3 linked regions of the Homo sapiens genome follow. The protein of the gene in region 3 interacts with the protein of the main gene of each other region in a biochemical or structural test. Each region holds a gene or a part of one and is shown on either strand. Other genes may lie near its edges. The genes, in order: CASK, EPB41L3 and CNTNAP2.

Region 1 (7,111 bases), on a different chromosome or scaffold from region 3:
CCTTCTGTTATGGACAGTTTTGGATGTACAATGAGGAAGGAATTTCATCCTCACCATCTTGTCTTCTGAATTGTATTCTTAGCTCCTGACCCTGTGCTTGACATATAATAAGGGCTTAATACAAGTTTGTTGGATTAAATTGTCTGTAAGATACAGTAGAGGGGTCATCTAAGAAGCTGGAGTGGGAAAGGGGGATGGAGAAAAATGTCCTAAGGAGAGAGCCTCCCTGGAGCAGTGAGGCTCTGCCTGAAAGCAAGTTGTTCATGGTCACGGGTATCCTGAAGGCAGGATGAAGGCCTTGTCCAGCTGAGGAGAGACTGGGCTGAGGGCAGAGAAGCCCGAGAGTGAAGCCCAGTCGGTGCAGACTGCGGGCATTCTCAGCTGTACTGTGGTATGCAATGGTCATTGTGAGACCAGGACTGGCATGAGGCTGGCCTGCGCAGGAGGGCCTGGGACCAGTGTAGTCAACCAGACCAACAGGAGGAGCAGGACCTGGGCAATCCCTATCCCCAGGGCCGCTGGCCCAAAGAGACTCAGGCAGCCAGGATGCCTATGGCCGGCCCTCAGGGCTAGGTGGATCTGAGAGATCACAGTTCTGAGAGGCAGGGACCCAGGAAGCAGGAGAGAAGAGTGCAGGTGAGCTCATCCAGCACTCAGGGGAGCAGAGGAGAGTGCCCAGCCGGGGTGAGGAGGTGCTTTGGGGCCAAGTGCAATGGGTAAAAGTAACTGCTGTGGGTGTCCTGAGGAGGCTGAGAGAAGTGTCTCCCACTCAGCAGTGCAGAGCAATGCATGGCTGTGCAAGGGCAAGGAGAAAGGGAGAGCTGGACGCTATGGGTGGAGCAGCAGCAGCAGCGGCAGCAGCAGCAGTGGCGGTGGCGGCGGCAGCAGCGGAGGCAGGTAAGGCAGAAAGCCCTCGAAAGTGGACTTAGGTAATGCAGAGGGAGTCTGAGGAGCCCTGCAGCCAGCATACTGCTAGAGACATTACTACCAGCAGAAAACGACGTTCAGGTGAAGACCAGTGTGGAACCCAAGGAGAGGATGTCGAAGACCAGGACCAGGATTGAGACTTTGCCTCTAGCCACCCCTGGCCAGAAGATTTTTCCAATCCCTAGTAAGGAGGGATTAGTAGTTAAACAAAAATCAATCTGTGGTACACATCATATATTTAGTTCTATATAGGTCCAAGTTAATTGTTAAGTAAACGGCAGTGTTCACCCTACTGCTGCTTTCCTCCCTAGCCCCTTGAACAGATCCTTTTGTGGTTTCCAAAGTTCCAAGTTCAAGAACCCCATCAGGTGTTGTAAACGGAAATGGGTGAACCCACTGGCCACGAATTAGGATCCTGGAGCCCAGAAACTGAGCTGTCAGGTCCCAGGTCACACAGACTCTGGCTATATAGGTTCTGTCCTTGCTTTAGGGATGGTTAGGGGACCAAGTCTCATACAGTGGCCCTTGAACAGGGATTCGCCCTGCCTAAGATAGCCAGGTAAGCCTCCTGATGAAACACAGCCTGCTTGAGGGAAGCTGGTCTACTATTTCAGCAGGTAGCATACTGGTTCTATTTCTAAGGGTTAAAGGAGATTTGGTACAGATCAGTCCTAGAAATGGCAGACCCAGGAGTCACATGGCACCCACAAGCCTCTCCTATAACCCACCTTGATGTCTACAACTCCCAAATCCTTCCTACTATACTTTGCCTCCCATATCTACTTGGTTTGTACTCAGAGATGAAAAAACAGCTTGTCAGCATTTTTGATGTAAAGCCTTCAGCTTTCTCTTTTTCAAGTTTAATAATTCCTACTGCAAGACATATCTAGAAACCATTTCATCATCTCTGTGTCTGGCTCTCTTTTGAGTCCTCTTCCAAGTCTTTATCTCTCTCCTAGTTTTTGCTCAGGGTCAGGCATTGTGCTCAGGTAAGGAAATGGCAGAGGCTGAGAGCCACCATGGGTTTCCATCCCTGCTGTCTCTGACATCTGGGCTCACTCATGCTTGCTTTCATAAAGCTAGTGCTGTGTTTCAGACCCAGGCCCCAGGATCAGTTTCTCACTGGAGATTAACATAATGTGCTGGTAGAGGCTCTGATGGTCCAGCGTGAGCTGTACCCAGAGAGGGAAGGTGGCTGTTGTGATAACAAAGTGCCAGAGCCTCATCCTGAGGTCAGATGATCGTAGGATTTCTGGCAGGCGTAGACACAATCAGGAACCTTACTGAGCTTCTGCATATAATAAACCTCTTAAGAGAATAATCTCTGCTTCTTAAATACATGGTGTGTGCACTGAGTCCAACGATTAGTCAGCTGGCATTCTAGACTGTGAACCCCCAACGCCTCCATTACTGATACTTTTCTGTGGTTTATGAAATTATTATGTGACCTGTGACTTTCTGATGGCATTTTTGATTTCAGAATCTGTGCTTATTGGCATGCAGGCAGGATGTCAGACATTCGGGGAGGCTGGGCATTACCTGAGGCTCCACGTCCAGTATTGCAATCAGCCCCTGCTCGTGGATCTTCCGGATGGTCTCCAGTTTTGTCCCATACATCGCATCCTCGTGGCTGCCGTACTCCAAGTACTCGTTATTAGAGATGTCTTGCATCATTTGGTCATGAGATACAAAGTAATAATTCTTTCCATTTTCTTCGTCTTTCTTTGGAGGTCTGGTTGTATCTGCAAAGTCGCATGGCACAAGAGGTTTAAAAGGCTGAGCTGATGAGCTTACTACACTCCCAACAGATTTACTCAAACCCAGTCTCTTCCTAAAAGCTGTGGATTCTTTAGCGTATATCTCATATCCCCTGTTCTCACCCCCAGTGGCTTTGCAGAACTAAATTCTAGAAACCATATTTATCTGTGTGCATCACACCATAGTAGCCAGTGAATTGTCTGGTTTGGTGAAACTTTCAGTGTTCAGGTGAGATGTATTTTATCCCTTCATGAACCACCACAGGAGGAAGACGTGAAATGACCCAAGATTAATATAACTCACTGTATGCCTTAATGCAGTTGGGTCTTGTGTAGAAGGAAAAAAGGAGAATAAAAAAATGGAAAACTGCATATGGTTAAATTTAAATAAGCCAAAATTAAATAAAATTCAAATTTTAGTTTCTCAGTCTCACTAGTGGCATTTCAAGGATTCAATAACCACGTATGGTTAGTGGCCACTGTACTGGACTGCACAGACATCAAGTACTGTCATTGTCACAGAAAGTTCTATTGAAAAGTGATGTTCTATAACATCTTGCAAAAGGAGAATGTTAGGATACAGCAAAAGACACGTTACACTGAAAACACAATGACTGTGGCCAGACATACCCATAATTATTATGGAAGACCTAAATCAGGAGGTGACAAACTGGCTTATGGGCCAAACATGGTCTACTGTCTTTTTTTATTTTTATTTTTTTATTTTGGAGACAGAGTCCCACTCTGTAGCCCAGGCTGGAGTGCAGTGGTGCGATCTCAGCTCACTGCAACTTCCACCTCCTGGGTTCAAGAGATTCTTGTGCCCTCAGCCTCCTGAGCAGCTGGGATTATAGGCGTGTACCACCATGCCCAGCTATTTTTTGTATTTCCAACAGAGACGGGGTTTCACCATGTTGGCCAGACTGGTCTCAAACTCCTGACCTCAGGTGATCTGCCCGCCTCAGTCTCCCAAAGTGCTGGGATTACAGGTGTGAGCCACTGCACCTGGCCACCTACTGTCTGTTTTTGTAAACAAAGTTTTACTGGAACACAGCCATGTGCTTTTGTTTACATATTGCCTATGGTTGTTTTCATGAGACAACAGCAGAGCTAAGTGCTTGTGATAGACTGTATGGCCTTAAAGCCTCAAATGTGTACTATCTGGTCCTTTACAGAAAAGGCTTGCCCACCCCTCACCTAAGTGAGTGTAACTGAAGTATATGCCAATAAGCTCTAGTTCTGTGGATACTAATAGGACCAGTATCCTGCAAAACACACTTTAGGAAATGTTTTTCTAGATGAGCCAGGAACACTGGTTTTAATATTCTCTCTCCCTACCCCCCTTTCTTTTCTCCCTTCCTTCCCTTTTTTTCCCTCTCTCTCTCAATTTCTTTGCTTCCTTCTTTCTTTGAGAAAGAACAAATTTATGCTACTCTCTTCTGTATACATGAGCCTAAACTAATGGGGAATCCCCCTTTCCTGCTAGCCTGTTTGTTAGAACATAAAGTGCTCGTGGTCATCAAAATGTGGACATTTTAAGAGAAGCCCTTTCTCTAGGCACATCAAAAGCTGAAGAACCGGCGTTACTATTTATTTATTTATTGAGACAGGGTCTCACTCTGTTGCCCAGGCTGGAGTGCAGTAGCAAGATCTCAGCTCACTGCAACTTCCAGCTCCCGGGTTCCAAGCGATTTTCATGCCTCAGCCACCCTAATAGCTGGGACTACAGGTGTGTGCCACCATGCCCGGCTAACTTTTGTATTTTTAGTAGAGATGGGGTTTCACCACATTGGCCAGGCTGGTCTCAAACTCCTGGTCTCATGTGATCCACCCATCTCGGCCTCCCAAAGTGCTGGGATTATAGGTGTGAGCCACCGCGCCCAGCCAAGAACTTACATAACATATTGATGTTGTACTATCTTCAGTCATCTCAGTAGTTAGATATATGTTATATACACATACAGGGTCAAATATTTCAAAGACTAGTCATGATTGACATCATCAAAGGTAAGTTTTAAAACCAAACTAGTTAACTGGCCATTTAATAACATGGAAGTTCAGTTGTTACGTGGTTAAGAAGAAGCTAAATGTTAGCTAAGCTTGCTGTACTCATGATCTAGACATAAGGAGAATTAAAAGAACACTTCAAAGTGTTTTACTAGAAAACCCCAGTAGTGCCAAATGAGACACTATTGGATACATTTCTTTTCTTGTGTAAATCAGACAAGGTTTTGGGATGAAGGTTTTCTCATGAAGCCTCCTGGCTCTCTGAGGTGTACAGATAACTGTAAGTGGTATTGACATTGCTTCAGGAAGGCATGTGAAGGCCCTATAGAATGGAGCCAATCTTCACATTTTCTCCTGTTGCTCTTAAAAAATAATTTTCCTTTAGCTCTTCCAACCCTGAGCTGCTAGAAAGCTTCTGGGGTTAAAATTTTATTTATTTTTTTTTGAGACGGAGTTTCACTCTTGTTGCCCAGGCTGGAGTGCAATGGCACGATCTCGGCTCACCACAACCTCCACCTCCGGATTCAACTGATTCTCCTGCTTCAGCCTGCTGAGTAGCTGGGATTACAGGCATGCACCACTATGCCTAGCTAATTTTGTATTTTTAGTAGAGACGGGGTTTCTCCATGTTGGTCAGGCTGGTCTCAAACTCCCGACCTCAGGTGATTCGCCCACCTCAGCCTCCCAAAGTGCTGGAATTACAGGCATGAGCCACCGCGCCTGGCCTAAAATTTTAAACTTTAGAATAATGATGATAATAATGAAATGATAGTGGTAGATAGCTTCTACTTATCCACCATCTGCTAAGTGCTTCATACACATGATCTCAAATCCTCTCTGCAATCCTGAATTACTTCATTTTACAATTGAGAAAATGAAGAGGGCAAGAGGTTAAGAATAAGATACGGAAAATAAGGAGAATTAAAAATCTTACAGATTTGAAAATCTTTACAGAAACAACTGTTAGCATATTGATTGGGTTTAAAAAGTGGTAAGAAATCAACAATTTAAATATTAACTAAGGGAAAAAAATTGTCATATCAGAAACTGTACAACTATGAAAACTTATTTTTCTGAAGAATAATTCATCTAGGTAATGTGTATGACATATTGTTAGAAAAATTGTTACAAACAGAATGGATAAAACTAATTTTATTTAAAACACACACACACACACACACACACACACACACACACACACACTTTATACACATATCTGTACTAAGACAAGCCTAGAAGGGTATACAACAGAGAAGCCTAGAAGGGTATACAACAAAATATTTATAGCACTTATTATAGGGAAAGAGGGGTTGGGATTACTGTTAACTCATTTTCCTCCTTGTTCTTTTTTTGATTTTACAAATTTCCTACAATGAACAGTTATACCTTATGTAATCAGAAAAAAATACATAAATTATAGAGTTAAAAAAGTGATAGGAAAAATATAATGAAAAGAGATTGAGACATTGCTTACGTGGAATAGGGTACGCAAACCGGTCTGGGTGCTTTGTGATGAGAGTGTTTTTTATGTGTCTTCTCCCAACACCATGTGCGCCTATGTCATTTAGAAAAAAAGAATGTTAAAACTGACAACTCTTAATAATGTTCACAAAATGTTTTGAAAGTGAGAATAAGCAACTCACTTACACAATCAAACTTACCTAATAAGACTAGTGTTTTCCTCTTGAATGCTGGCAGTTTTACTACTTCTTCATATGTGACAAGATCTAATTGATCAAACACTAAAACGCAAAGATTTAGAAGAAAGGTAAATTTGTAGAATGACTATTTCATGTACATAAATTATAATTTTACTGGCAAAACTACAGTTATATTAAAACCATGTCTTAAAAATATGAATCCAACTTATGATATATGGCTTACATGTAATTTAAGTCATATAGCATCTAGGGAGAAATTTTCATTTTTAAGCCCATGAAAATGCTCTTTAGAACCAGGGGCATCCAAAGATGCTGAACACATGCATTAAAATGTCCAAATCTAAAAGATACTACATATCTTTTCATGTAGTATCCAACAAATCATATGAATTAATTTGAAACCACATGCTGTTCATATTTTTCCAATTCTAAGAAGTCAGCAATACTAAAAAGAAAAAGTCTACAGACAGTGACCAACATGAATATAGCATGAATGCAACTAAAGTTAACCAGGAGAGGGGCCAGCTAGATCATTTCTAGAGATGGATGAGAAATGCATGGACAGCTGGTCTTTAACTTCATGGTTCTTTCTTTCAACAGAGTTGATGAAGGTGGCATGCTAGATTCTAAGGCAAGTTCTGTAACTATTGCACAAGCTTATCAATGAGCATCTCACAAGCTTTACTGTAACCCAGATATCCACTCAATGGAAAGTCTTGAATATGTAAGGAGAGTTACATGCTTTCCTGGGCCTGAAAA
Region 2 (7,111 bases), on a different chromosome or scaffold from region 3:
CCCCATGAGATCTTGCATGGCAGGTGACTATGCATGACAAGTCTGTGCTCACATAGATGATATAGTCTGCTCATGATGCTGGCCAAACAGTCACTGGAAAGGTATGTGCTTTCTACAGGACCACAAGACTGCATTTTTTTTGCCTCCTTCTGAGACAGTGCTACGCTAGGGAGAAAAATCATCCCAAAGAATACAGGAAATATAAGACATCCAAAAAGAAAGTGAGTGCTCAGCTTTCAAATTAAAAAAACAAAACTAAAGACAAAAGCATAAACAGGTTACAATCAAACACAGTTGAAGAGAAAGCTTACGACGGGATAATGTTGCCATCAGAAGGAGAAAGGGGTATATATTATTTCCCTAGTATTTGGAACACACAAATTGAGCCTCTCAGAGCAAAACTGCCTTTGTTCCAATTAGGCCACATGGCAAGTAAAATCAAATTTGCCATTACAAATTTGGATAATCAAAGAGTGCAGGCCATGGAATAAAAGGGAACACCAGGAAGACCACACAAGCATAGAAGCATAGACTCTGCTCTTCCTTTATCCTCTAACTGGCAGTGCATGCAAAAACTCCACAAGAATGGAAGCTCCAAATGTGAGACAAACCCATAAACCAATTCTCCATCCTCTTGGTAACCAGCCCAACAAATGCCAGTGAGAGAACAGAGGAAAGGAGGGATCAGGTGAAGGATGAGAGGGAAGTGCCCCATGCCTCATGCCAGCCTAGGCAAGCCTAGAGAATCGGCATCACCTCTTACCTCTGGTCAATCCTCTCCATCTTCTGGTGTGATCTCTGTCTCTTTATGGACCACTACTTTGGTCACTGACATGTCAGGGTGCTGCTCTTTGGCCTCTTTAATTGCCTGAGCCAGCGCCTATCCCCGGGAAATCACAGAAGGGCAGAAACAAAAAGGAGGTGGAACATGCATGATCAGTGGTGAGGTGGAGACTTATGAGCTAGATCTATATCCACAATTTACAAATGAGGTACAATGATTACAAAAGGAATCATAAATCATATATTGGAAAGTTAATTCGGAATTTTCTTCGGAATACATGCTGGACTAGAGGAATAGCATTGAAACTGTAGGACCAACAGGTTTTTCTTTGTTTCTCTGCCAGGGTATTTACCGTCTCACACACACTACCTGGTCATGGTCAATGTCTGCATCCCCCGTGATGACTATTCGCTTCTCAATTCTTGTCTCTGAAATGCCCCCTTTCACAGTCTGCAAGACACGTAGAGAAGCTTTATGAATTTACTCACTGGGAGAAACCATCATGGTTCAGTAGGGGGAAATGGCCGAAGATGCTGACATCATTCACTCTTCGAGAATTGAAATTAGAGTTCTATGGCACTTATTTCACATTTTTAATTCCAGAGGTGAGGACGGAATGGAGGCCCTTGGGTCTGGATGGCCCATGTTTCTGGAACACTACCACATGCCAAGCACTGGAGTAAGCATTAAGCTTAGGATATCAGAATGTATATTCCTAAAGGGGAACTCGCACGTGAGGACAAGTGCATCGTAAATCTAGGGGCTGTAAAAGCTCCCCTTGCAGCTATCCCGGCGTCCTGAGCTTCAAGCCACCTTGTGCTTGTGCAGCCCAACCTGTGAGGAGTTCTGAACAAGCACCTTCCTCCAGCTCGCTCTCAAGGAATCCTCTTCTCGGTTCTCACTCCACTTACTTTGGTGATGTGCGTAGTGGTGGTGGTACTGGTGGTTTCAGATGTGATCGTCTGTGCACTCATCAGCACGCCTGGCTCCAGATCTGTGCCTGGATCGACCTAAAGCAGCAGAGGCATAGACCCCTCATCCAGGTGCTCACATCTGCTCTTCAGAAGTTGGCTACGTTATTTAAGGCATTACGACAATTTCACTATCTCCTATTATGCAATCATTATGCTCTTCAGAGTCTGAGCGCTGCTCCCAAGAATAAGTACTAAGTGCAACCACAGGTAACTGTCATTAAAAAAACTAAGGTTTCAGAAATGTGAGTGGTGGATGGGTGAGTGAATATTTTTCTTTCTCTGTGGCTAGGGAAACAGGTTTCTGAGCCTTTTTCTACACTTCAAGACACATAAAGACTTGGTTAAGTCATCTGCTGCTCCCTGATCACTAATAAAATGACCATTATTGCATCACTTTTAATAGAAATGGTCTGGCTGCTGGATCCTCTAAGTCTCATGAATTAAATATCGTGCAGTTCTATGTAAACACACTAGGCCATAGAGGGGTGAAATAAGCAGCCAGGGCTCTGGTCTTCACAGAATATCTCACCTGTGATGATTCATATGTGATGGTTTTGGTTTCGGTGTGAACTACTGGCACTTCCTTCGTGGAAATTTCTAGCTTTACTCCTCCCGGTGAAACACTGCCAAAACTGATGGTTTCCGTCTTCACCGTTGAGGACTGTGCCAAAGGGGAGTAAGCAGAGTGGCTGTTATAGTTTGCATGAACACATTGTTTTCTTCCTTTTCCTCTCTTGGTGGTTATAAGCACAGGTTAGTATGCTATAAATGTTTATGTAGAGAGTAAGCTGGGGAATGAGGCATACAACATGCACATGTCAGTCTCCTGGACTCTCATAGCACTTTTATATGAAATGCTCCAAGTAAAGCAAAACATTTTGAAGGCAATAAAAAAAAGTTTTCTATTTAATAACTTCTTAGAAAGAAGAAACTAATAATGAGACATTAACTCCCCAAATACTTCAGGAATCTCAATAAAAGAGGATAAAGAATAAAGTTCTGGCATTTAGGACCCGGGTAAACATGGTTTTGGTGCTTCTGGAAAAGTGCACTGATAAGAAATAAATGTATCACATTTTCTAATATCTTGGCCAACTTTGCATTTCCCAATTTTACTGCCAATTATAATAATTTCAGTGAGAGTAGAAACCATTTCCTGGTGCCATATTATTAATAATTAAGAGATATGTTTGCATGTGACACCAAAGCTGGAAATCAGTGTGGAGACTCCTACTAGGTATGAAAGAAGGAAATGAGAGGAGAAATACACTATACATGGGAGAGGCAGAAAATTAAACTTAGCTCCACCTTTATGCTGATCTAAATTTCCAGGCATCCTATATCAGTTTTATTTTAGTGATAAAAGTAACATTTACTACTAGTTACCTCAAAATGAGGTTTTTGTTCCAAAGTTTCTGAAATGTGGATGGCTGCACTCTGCTCCTCTTGTCGCTCACGGGAAGCAGCGGCTGTCTCTTCCTGTTCCAGGACAGCTTTAGCGACCTCCTCCCCTCCTTCCTCTTTAGCCCCCTCCGTCAAGGCAGAGCCCTCTTTCCCTTTAATGCCTGTGAATGCGGGCTGTGCTGCAGCATCCCCGCTGTCTCCCGCCGAGTAAGAAGCATCCCCACTCGCGTGCACCACACGCCGCTCCTCCACCAACACGGTCTCCTGCACCACCTTCTCAGTGCTAAGCGGCAGGTGGTGCACGGTGGGTTCCGTCTCTATTCCACTGGACTCCGTCTTGGTTTCCATTTTCTGCATGGGAAGAGATTGTGGCATCAGTGTGACCATCCATAAACCAAAGGTCAGAAAATAACTAAAGCTGCCACTCGCCAGGATGTCTAAAGCCAGCAGCAAGTGCTTATAACCAGAAACACTGACGAAAAATATAAATTAGCTTTCATTTCTCCCACTGAAATCTCTGATGCCTGCCCCTGCCCCTGGTGCATGCACTTGAACCTGCGCTGCTGCTTCAGGACATCCGCAAAACAAACGGAAGGCAGGATAAAGTGCAATTAACAAAACAAAAACCAAAGCATTGCAGCGCATTCACGTTGGTTTTGGCTGCTTTCTTAGACTCAACTGGTGAGACATAATGCTTTTAGATATTTAATTCTATTAAAATTTCTCAATATGATCGCCTTTCGAATAGTGAAGTACATTCTTGAGATGCAACTAAAGGCATGTGACAGATATGCCAAGCAGACACAAAGGACAATAAGTGAAGACACCTTTGAGATGTTGAAGGCAAAGCCAGCTGGATGCAACCACACACTCACGCCCAAAAAAAGGGTAAGGAAAGGCACATGGGCACATTCAGAAACACCAAGGACGAAAACAAATGGCCACCTGAACCCAGCTTTGAGAAGTAGAAGTAACCCCTCCTATGAATTCTGTTGGTTTTCGCGCAGACTCTAATAAACTGAAGATTTCAGAGCCATCCATGAGCTTTTCCCCAGAAGACTGCTTAGTCTGAGTGAACAAAGAGAGGCAGAGTCAAGCACAAAAGAGAGACACAAACTCAGGCACATAAACATTCACAGCTTGTTAGACAAAATCGTAGGCAGAGGAGACAGGGAGGAGGAAGAACGAAGGAATCTCAGAGTTTGGAAACGAAAAGAATGGGAAATAAAATAGAAAACCAGGTGCTCTTGTTTGGTAAAGCAGAGACGGTTATTAGGATCAGGGTGGCGCCGATTTAAGCAGATATATATATTTTTTCCCCTTCATTGCAAGCCACAGCAGCACTATCACATCTTGGGAACAGGGAGCTGGAAATAAAATGGAAAGTGTTTTAATGCTGACTTTGCACTGCGGTATTGATTTAACCATGAAAAAAAATTAAGAAGCTGGGTTGGCTGCTCTCAACATAAAGCCAAGCAGCAAGAGAAACGGAAAGGTTTGGGGTGGAAGGGGACTGCCTCAAAAACTGTCATGCTGGAATTGCAAACTGTGGCCCCAATGAGTGACACTGGTTACCACTACTCGGGAGGCGGATGACTCAGTAACGTAATGGGCAGTAGCAACGGTAAAGGCTGGTTCCTGGGAATATCTCCATTCGGACAGGCTCTTCCTTCGGGGACCAAAGAGGCCCACTTTTAAGACCTCACTCTCGGGCACTTGCTCTGTTTTGCTGAAGCGTCTGCCTTCCAGGCCAGGGAGGACGGCCACATCCTTCTCCAGCTGTGGAGCCTTCTTGAGGTCATCTTCTTCAGGACTCTGCCGGCGAGACTCGGCCTCCTTGATGGGGGCCAGGGATTCGGACAATTTCCGCTGTGTCGTCTGGACCTCTGGTCCTCTCTTGGATTTCTCATCAGCGAGGGTTTCCAGGACCTCATATTCTGCCAGGCCGGGAATGATCTTCATGGACTCTGGTATTTCTTTCTCCATTTTCTGAAGTGCTTCTGTAGTGGAGGGCTGCTCCACTTTCTCACCCTCTTTAGCTTTCCCAGTCATAGTAACAATTCTCCCGGAGACAGTGTCATAGGATTTTCCTAGAGTGTATATTTTCTGTTTGCTGTCTTCTTTCAGTTGCATTTCTCGAGCCAATTCTTCGAAGCTTTGCATTTTAATAGTGCCAGATTTTAACATGTCAGCTGGGAGATCACCAGTTTTACTGCTCACGGTCACCACCTTGTAAGTCACAATCTTTTTCAAATCACCATCAACTACCTCAGTTGGTATTCTGTCTACAATAACCCAATCCTCTGTGCCCTATATTTGAAATATAAAAGCTAAATTAGAAATTCTGATGGTATCTCATTTCTAAAATAAGAATCCTTTAAGAAAATCAGGGCAACTGCTACATGCAGGTCTGTGATGGGACCATACAGTGCTCATGTTATTATCTAATAATTATGGCTGCAATCTCTTCTCCTCTGAAATGATAAACTATAAACTTCAGCTCAGAATACATTCGGTAGGTAGAGTTGCAACTTCTTTAAACTGGAACATACTTTGCAGTAAATTTTTTGAAGAACAGATTTGCTCTTATGATAAATTTTGGATCATTTTATATTTCAAGATTAAATAACATTATTGATGTTGCTCTATAAGTTACTTAGCTTTACATGTGTGGGGATAAAAGTTTTCCTCGTTAAATATAATCTATACTTCATATACTGTTATCACAGAGAGCTTCCCAACATTCTACAAATTTATGTAAATATTTTCCATATTTGTAAATTGTATTTCTTTATACAGGGAAATGAATCCATAATAGCACTTATTATTCAATAAATATTGAGTGTGACTGTGTTCAAGGCATTGTAATGAAATATTTCCCACAAATAGGACACTATTAGAGCCTCTTACAGTGATCTGTACAGTGTTCGAGTCTTACATTTTTTTTTTAAAAGATGGGGTCTCCCTATGTTGCCCAGGTCGGCCTCGAACCCCTGGGCTCAAGTGATCCTCCCATCTCAGCCTCCCCAGGAGCTGGGACTACAGGCACATGCCATTGTGCCCGCTCCAATCTTATTTACAACTGAAGTTCACTGTCTCAGGAGTTTCTCTCTCACTTTCTTTAGTGTTAGTTCCAATAAGGCAAAAGAAAGGAAAGCTAAGAAACTTTTGTATTCAGGGAGGCATAATACAATATGACCAGGTAGGTTAATAGCTTCACAGATTACAGAGGGAAGAGATATCAAACCAGGAGCAGGTGAGTGCCCTGGTTTACATTTTAAACTAGAATGTTTTCTAGAAACTTTTCTGTTTTTTACAGCCTGAAAACTTAAATCTAGAAATACGTGTGCCTTTAAAAATACCACTACAGATTGATCTACATGTTGTTGCTAGATTAAATGAAATGAATTGAAAGAATAACCTCTAGGGTTGATGGGACAGTTTTCTGGAAAATTATTTGACGAGAAGTAACCACAGAGTCAGCAGAGTCTCCTTCCTGCATTTTCTTTATCACACTTGGCTAGTGGGGAAACCAATAAGAATTCAGAACTTTCAAAATCAGTCAACTTCATCTAAATTAGCACGACTCTACAGGTAAAAACAGGCAGTAAAACAACATTTCAGCAAGATTATTATCAGAAAGTAAGTCAATGACAACATACAGAGAAAAATCAGCTTGGATTAGAAGCCATGAAGAAATGATGCATAACTGATAACTAAAATATTAAGAAAATTCAATTTTCCCTTCCCCAGAATCTAAATCAAAATTATGTACCTACCTTGGTTTTAAACAAGATAAATGTTAAAGGGAAAATAAAAACTAAGAGCATTTTAATGACACTGAAGTCTGAAGACCAATTTCTTCTGGAAAATCCTTTATGTTTGGTTTTTACCTGAGACTCAAGGAATGGAGCGCTTCCTTGCTGCAAAAATATAACTTTTTCAGAAA
Region 3 (7,111 bases):
AAATATTAAAAAGGTTTTTTTTTTTGTGATCAGTCTCAAGAATATTCCATTATATTCCATTGCCTGCCTCCCCCAACTTGTGCTGATATTTTAAGGATGTGCTCAAGAGTATGAAGCAGGGTGCTTTTGTCCCTTTCTCTCCTCCCTAGTAATTCCCTCCTCCCTATCCCATAGCCAAGTAGCCACCCCTCAAATGAGCCATTCCTTTTTGCTTTCATCAATGGTCTCTGTGAAGTTGGGGTCGTTGTTCATGATGGCGGCGTCCGCGCTCTCTGCCGACTCCGCCCCCTTTGCTTCGTTGGTATGGTAGGTGCCCTTGTGGCGGAACATGTACCGGATCAGGAAGACCAGGGTGCACAGGATGGTGAAAATCACCACAGCAATGACGCCTGACGGAGAAAGGAGAAGCACGAGAGGTTAGACAGGGCTTGGGAGTCCCTCCAACACTGTCCCCACTTCACTACAGCTCCGTCAGACACAGCCCTCTCCCATATAAAACACAACCTCCAAAACAACAAAGATAACAAAAATGAAGTAAGATGTCTGTTTTTGTCCATGAAGGAGTAACAGGAAAAACAGGAGTAACTTGTCTTCCAGCCAAAAGTAACTAAAATACTGGACACAGTCTATGAAATGACAGTCTACAGACATTAGAAAACAGGCAGAAAGGAACCATGATGTCTGAGAACAGAGAAACAAAAAGGAGGAATCCTACATTTTTCCTAGTTTTCTGGCTGGCAGCGATTTTTGGACAGCAGTGTAGGGAGGGGCAGCACAAGAAAGCACAGTGGTTTCCCTGAATGGAGAGGGGAGATAGAGTGGGCGCGCGAGAGAGCTATGTATAGAAAGAACCCTAATAATCTGCACATAAGTCTCTCTGAATTTGTGGCCGAATAATACTAACATGTGCATGTACAGAATAAAAGTCCACAGGCCAGGCAAAAAACCAGAGCTCACGGAGGGCTGGGAGATGTTTATAGTCCAACAACCACACTGAAGAGACCTCATTGAACAATCAGAGCATTTAATACAGTTGATAGAATGGTCATGCTGAAGGTGTTTGCTAAAATAGGCCTAGAATAAAGACTACTCTAGCTCTGTCCTGAAAAAGCTTTAAAACACATCTAAATAACGTCAAGCTGCAGAGAAAAATAATTCAGAGAAAAAAAATGTAGCAAAATGTCACTTGACCAGAAGAAACATCAGTCAATTAGAAGGAGAGCCAGAAAGGACAGAGCATGGAATGAGCAGATGAGGACAGTACAATAGCTATTAGAAACAGAAAGGACAGAGCATGGAATGAGCAGATGAGGACAGTACAATAGCTATTAGAAACCTGCACAGGGGTTTAAAGGAAAACATGATCAAAATGAGGGGAAAAAAAATGAGACAACGTGGAACTTGTAGAGGTGAAACACACAATGTCTGAAATGAGCAGTGGCTCGCGCCTGTAATCCCAGCACTTTGGGAGGCTGAGGCGGGCGGATTACTTGAGGTCAGGAGTTTAAGACCAGCCTGGGCAACATGGTGAAACCCGGTCTTTTATACTAAAAGTACAAAAATCAGCCAGGCATGGTGGCACGCTCCTGTGATCCCAGCTAGCCAAGATGCTGAGGCGTGAGAATCGCTTGAACCTGGGAGGCGGAGGCTGCAGTGAGCCAAGATCGTGCCACTGCACTCCAGCTTGTGTGAGGGGGGGGGGGGGGACTCTGTCTAAAAAAAAAAAATGGAAAAAGAAAAAAATACTGGATGAAATAATACAGATTAGATAAAACAGAAGTAAATATAACTGATCTAAACACTCCAATTAAAAAGTAGAGACAGTGGATAAAAAAGATGCCTACTATATGATATCTACAAGACATGAACTTTAAATACAGGTCAACAGTAAAAGGGTGGGAAAAGATATGCAAACAATAATCATAAGCTGGAATAGCTACGTTAATATGAGACAAAGGACAAGGTTGTTAGTAGAAATGAAGAACATTTCATAATGACAAAAGGGTGAATTCATCAGGAAGACATAATGTTCCTAATGTGTATAAATCTAACCTAAGTACAAAATAAATGAAGCAAAAACGGGCAGAACTGGTAGGACAATTAGACCAATTTGCAATTATAGTTGGAGATTTTTTAACACTGTTCTGTCAGTAACTGATAGAACAATTGAACAGAAAATCAGCAAAAATTTAAAAGACTCGAACAATACTACTAACAAGCATTACCTAATGATATTAGACCAATCCTACACATCTTTCTTAAAATATAGGAGGAGAAAACACTACTCAATTCATTTTATGAGACCAGCATTATCCTGACACTAAAACCAGAAAAATGTTACAAGAAAACTATGGAGCAATATATATATATATATATATATATATATATATATATATATATATATTTTTTTTTTGAGACGGAGTTTCACTCTTGTTGCCCAGGCTGGAGTGCAATGGCACGATCTGGGCTTACTGTAACCTCAGCCTCCCAGGTTCAAGCAATTCTCCTGTCTCAGCCTCCCGAGTAGCTGGGCTTACAGGCGCCCACCAGTACGCCCAGCTGATTTTTATATTTTTAGTAGAGACGGGGTTTCACTGTGTTGGCTAGGCTGGTCCTGAACTCCTGACCTCAGGTAATCCACCTGCCTCGGCCTCCCAAAGTGCTGGGATTATAGGCGTGAGCTGCTACGCCTGGCCACAATATTCTTTTAAATAGAATTTTAGCAAATCAAACCCAGCAATATGTAAAAAAGATCATGTATTATGATAATGTTAATCCTAGGAATGCAAGTTTGGTTTAACATTAAAAAATAAAGCAATGTGATTTACCACATTAAGCAAATAAGGAGTAAAACAATATGATCATCTAAATAGATGTGGAAAAAGCATTTGGAAAACTTCCAATACCCATTCATCAAACAGCTTTCAGTAAACTATGAGTAGAAGAAACTTTCTCAATCTGATAAAGGACATCTGTTGGAAACCTACGGCCAATATCCTATTTCATAGTGAAAGATCAAACACATTCCCCTAACATAGGGAACAATGCAAAATTGTCAAATCTCAATATTTATTCACTTTTGTACTGAAAATCCTACCCGGTGCAATGAAACAACAAAAGGATATAGACTGGAAAGAAACAAGTAAAAAAATCTCATTATTCTCAGATAAAATGCTTGTCTAGGTAGACAATTCTGAGGAATATACAAAAAAAGTTATTAGAACTAACAGCAAATTTAGCAAGGTCACAGAAGGCAAGGCTGATATAAAAGATCAATTATACTTTTATATGCCAGAGAGAGACACTTAGAAAATGAAATTAATGAAATAGTAAGCTGTTCAAGACTTCGCATTGAAAACCACAATACGTTGCTGAGAGAAACTGATGAGACAAATAAACGTATAGATACACCATGTAAAGATAGAAATACTAAATATCGTTAAGATGTTCTAATGAACCTGTCTTGGCCTCTCAAAGTGCTGGGATTACAGGCGTGCGCCACCGCGCCTGGCCAGGATTAGAGAACTTACATTGTTTATTTCAAGACTTAGTATAAAGATACAACAGGCCGGGAGCGATGGCTCACACCTGTAATCCTACCAGTTTTGCAGGCCGAGGTGGGTGGATCACAAGGTCAGGAGATTGAGACCATCCTGGCCAACATGGTGAAACCCTGTCTCTACTAAAATACAAAAATTAGCTGGACATGGTGGTGCGTGCCTGTAATCCCAGCTACTCGGGAGGTTGAGGCAGGAGAATCGCTTGAGCCAGGGAGTCGGAGGTTGCATGAGCCGAGATCGCGCCACTGTACTCCAGCCTGGCAACAAAGCAAGACTCCCATCTCAACAAAAAAAGATACAACAATAAAGCAAGCATGATATTGGCTAAGGAAAGATATATATAGACCAACAAAACAAAAAGCCCAGAAAATAGACACACACACACACACACACATATGTCAGTTGCTTTAACAAAAGTGCCAAGAAAATTCAATTGAGGAAAAGTATAGTTTTTTTTTTTTCAACAAATGGTCTTGGAATGACTAGATATTCATTTGGAAAATACTGACGTTGACTCTTCTCTCACACCATTTATAAACATTAACTCGAAGTGATTAAAGACCTGATGGCAAATGATAAAGTGATACAACTTCTAGAAGAAAGCTGAAAATCTTCAAAACCTTTGGGTAGGCAGACTTTTTAGATAGGACAAACCAACCACAAACTATAAAAAAGATTGGGGCCGGGCACGGTGGCTCACACCTATAATCCCAGCACTTTGGGAGGCTGAGGCGAGTGGATCACTTGAGGTCAGGAGTTGGAGACCAGCCTGGCCAACATGGTACAATCCTGTCTCTACTAAAAATACAAAAATTAGCCAGGCATGGTGATGCGTGCCTGTAGTTCCAGCTACTCAGGAGGCTGAAGCAGGAGAATCGCTTGAACCCGGGAGGCAGAGATTGCAGTGAACTGAGATCACGCCACTGCACTCCAGCCTGGGCAACAGAAAGTGAGACTCTGTCTCAAAAAATAATAATAAATAAAAGTTACGGACTTGTTACACTTATAGATGCGTATTATACTTCAATTAAGTTCATTTAAAAAAGCAAAAGACAGTGAGGATTGGGATCTTAATGGTAACAGGGATGTCAATATCGATCTACGCATGAGGCTCAGTGGCTATCCGAGGAGAGTCAAATTATTATGTAGCTGTCCATGGTGAGAAGAAAACACTGGAATATTTTAGATGCTACAGCTTGTTAAATCTTCTGATACATTTTTAGTTTTTATTATTTTCATTGTGCAAATTTACGGGGTACATGAGAAAATTTGTTACACGTATATAAGGAATAGTGGTCAAGTCATAGTATTTAGGGGTTCATCAACCAAGTACAGTACATTTTTGTTAGATATAGTCATCCTACCCTGCTAGCAAACCCGGAACTTGTTCCTTTTATCTTTCTTACTGTATGTTTGCACCCTGTAACCCACTTCTCTTCATTCTCCTTCCTCCTCCTGCTCAACTTTCCCAATCTCTGTTACGTGTTTTTCTTTCTACCTCCATGTGTGTAAATCTTTTAGCTCCTGTGTATCAGTGAGAATATGCAATATTTGTCTTTTTGTGCCTAGCTTATTTCACTTAAAATAATGACCTCCAGTGATTTTCTGATAATTTTTATTATGATAACTGAAATCAGACTGGCATTTCCCTTTTCGTATTTTTTTTTTTTTTTTTTTTTTGAGAAAGGTCTCAATCTGTCACCTAGACTGGAGTACAGTGGTGTGATCTCAGCTCACTGCAACCTCTACCTCCCAGGCTCAAGCAATTCTCTTGTCTCAGGCTCCCGAGTAGCTGGGATTACAGGAATGCGCCACCACGCCTGGCTAACTTTTGTATTTTTAGAGATGGGGTTTCACCATGTTGGCCAGGCTGGTCTTGAACTCCTGACCTCAAATGATCCACCTGCCTCGGCCTCCCGAAGTGCTGGGATTACAGGCGTAAGTCACTGCACCCAGCATTCCTTTTCATTTTTTTATAGTACGCTATCCTGGACCATTTTGGATGCGAAAGGATAAGACTGAAAAATATCCGAGGGGGATAAAGAAATGTCCTGGCTATGGTCACTACTACCTACTTAATTATTCTGAGTCTGTCCAGCTTTCCACTGCTATTTGTTTTTTACAAGCCAGCATTAAAAAGTAGCCAGGTTACATTTACTATATTCTTTCTTTCTTTCTTTTTTTTTTTTTTTTTTGAGACGGAGTCCCGCTCTTTAGCCCAGGCCGGATTGCAGTGGCACAATCTTGGCTCACTGCAAGCTCCGCCTCCCAGGTTCACGCCATTCTCCTGCCTCAGCCTCCTGAGTAGCTGGGACTACAGGCGCCCGCCACTGCGCCCGGCTAATTTTTTGTATTTTTAGTAGAGACGGGGTTTCACCGTGTTAGCCAAGATGGTCTCGATCTCCTGACCTTGTGATCCGCCCGCCTCGGCCTCCCAAAGTGCTGGGATTACAGGCGTGAGCCACCGCGCCCAGCTAATTTTTGTATTTTTAGTAGATATGGGGTTTTGCCATGTTGGCTAGGCTGGTCTCGAATTCCTGACCTCAGGTGATCTGCCCACCTCGGCCTCCCAAAGTGCTAGGATAACAGAGGTGAGCCACTGTGCCCGGCTATATTTACTATATTTCTTCACATCATATGTCATAATCTTTAAACAGCAAAATGAATAATGTAAAAACCTAGAAAACTTTTTTTCCTAGACTACTATGTTATTGACAACTATTACTTTCCATAGTTGAGTAGCCCCATATAAGCCTCCTCTAGACATCACCTACCTCCAATGATAGCCGAGTTTCTGTTGACTCCATTTCTTATAGCTTGGCCTTGTCCTGGATTATATGGAAAATCCGCACTGGCTGTAGAGAAAGAAAGAGTCAAGTGTCAGAGTCAAGTATACTATTGATCCCAAATAATTTGATACCTATTTCTTCATGCAACTCTTCAACACTTCCTGTTTTCCCAAATGAAATCTCCATTTCAGATGGACCCGTCTTGCCATTGTCTCCCACAAGAATCACAACAGCCTCCATCCCTGTTCCTGCTGTTTCTCTTTGCACAAGGCCTAGGTAAACACGACTTCCCACTTGGAGCAATATTAGAGAATCCTAGAGCTACCTGAGCTGGCCTGCTCTAGTTCCACAGACAGACGAGTTTATGCATTTGAATATGTTTCTTACATTTGGTTGAAATCTGCTTCCCATCCACTTTTAACCCCATGCACAACTGGTGGCATTCAATGTATTTGTAGATGAGCTTTTTACAGCTACAGTATTAAAAAGTTTAAAAAGGAATCATTCCTTTAAACTTGTATTTTTCATGGCTGTAATAAGACACTGGCACACTTTAGGAATTTGTAAGGGGGTAATAATTCAAAACAGTTAAGAATATTAACTGCCTAGTGAATTTTCTATTTCTTTCCCTATTATAAACGTAAGAATCAGTTGTGTTAAATTTAGGTATTTCTCTAAGATAAAACAAATTTTAAGCCCGGTAAAGGCAAATAGATCCCGAAGTCCATCTGCAAGTCGGCAGACTATCTTCTGTCATCCATA

What was found.
Region 1: the proteins of CNTNAP2 (region 3) and CASK form a complex in vitro, tested with the Homo sapiens proteins (2 studies listed by BioGRID and IntAct, with this or other methods).
Region 2: the proteins of CNTNAP2 (region 3) and EPB41L3 form a complex in vitro, tested with the Homo sapiens proteins (one study listed by BioGRID).

What each region holds. Positions count from the first base shown.
Region 1 is NC_000023.11:41,528,541-41,535,651, forward strand, and holds part of CASK (peripheral plasma membrane protein CASK), read right to left. Parts: intron 6,434-7,111; coding exon 6,353-6,433; intron 6,247-6,352; coding exon 6,166-6,246; intron 2,670-6,165; coding exon 2,467-2,669; intron 1-2,466. UniProt on the Homo sapiens protein: Multidomain scaffolding Mg(2+)-independent protein kinase that catalyzes the phosphotransfer from ATP to proteins such as NRXN1, and plays a role in synaptic transmembrane protein anchoring and ion channel trafficking.
Region 2 is NC_000018.10:5,393,914-5,401,024, forward strand, and holds part of EPB41L3 (band 4.1-like protein 3), read right to left. Parts: coding exon of another isoform or gene 7,056-7,111; intron 4,231-7,055; coding exon 4,108-4,230; intron 3,514-4,107; coding exon 3,145-3,513; intron 2,420-3,144; coding exon 2,288-2,419; intron 1,795-2,287; coding exon 1,696-1,794; intron 1,235-1,695; coding exon 1,154-1,234; intron 881-1,153; coding exon 770-880; 3' UTR 764-769; intron 1-763. UniProt on the Homo sapiens protein: Tumor suppressor that inhibits cell proliferation and promotes apoptosis. Modulates the activity of protein arginine N-methyltransferases, including PRMT3 and PRMT5.
Region 3 is NC_000007.14:148,408,695-148,415,805, reverse strand, and holds part of CNTNAP2 (contactin-associated protein-like 2 precursor), read right to left. Parts: intron 6,416-7,111; coding exon 6,335-6,415; intron 390-6,334; coding exon 190-389; 3' UTR 1-189. UniProt on the Homo sapiens protein: Required for gap junction formation. Required, with CNTNAP1, for radial and longitudinal organization of myelinated axons.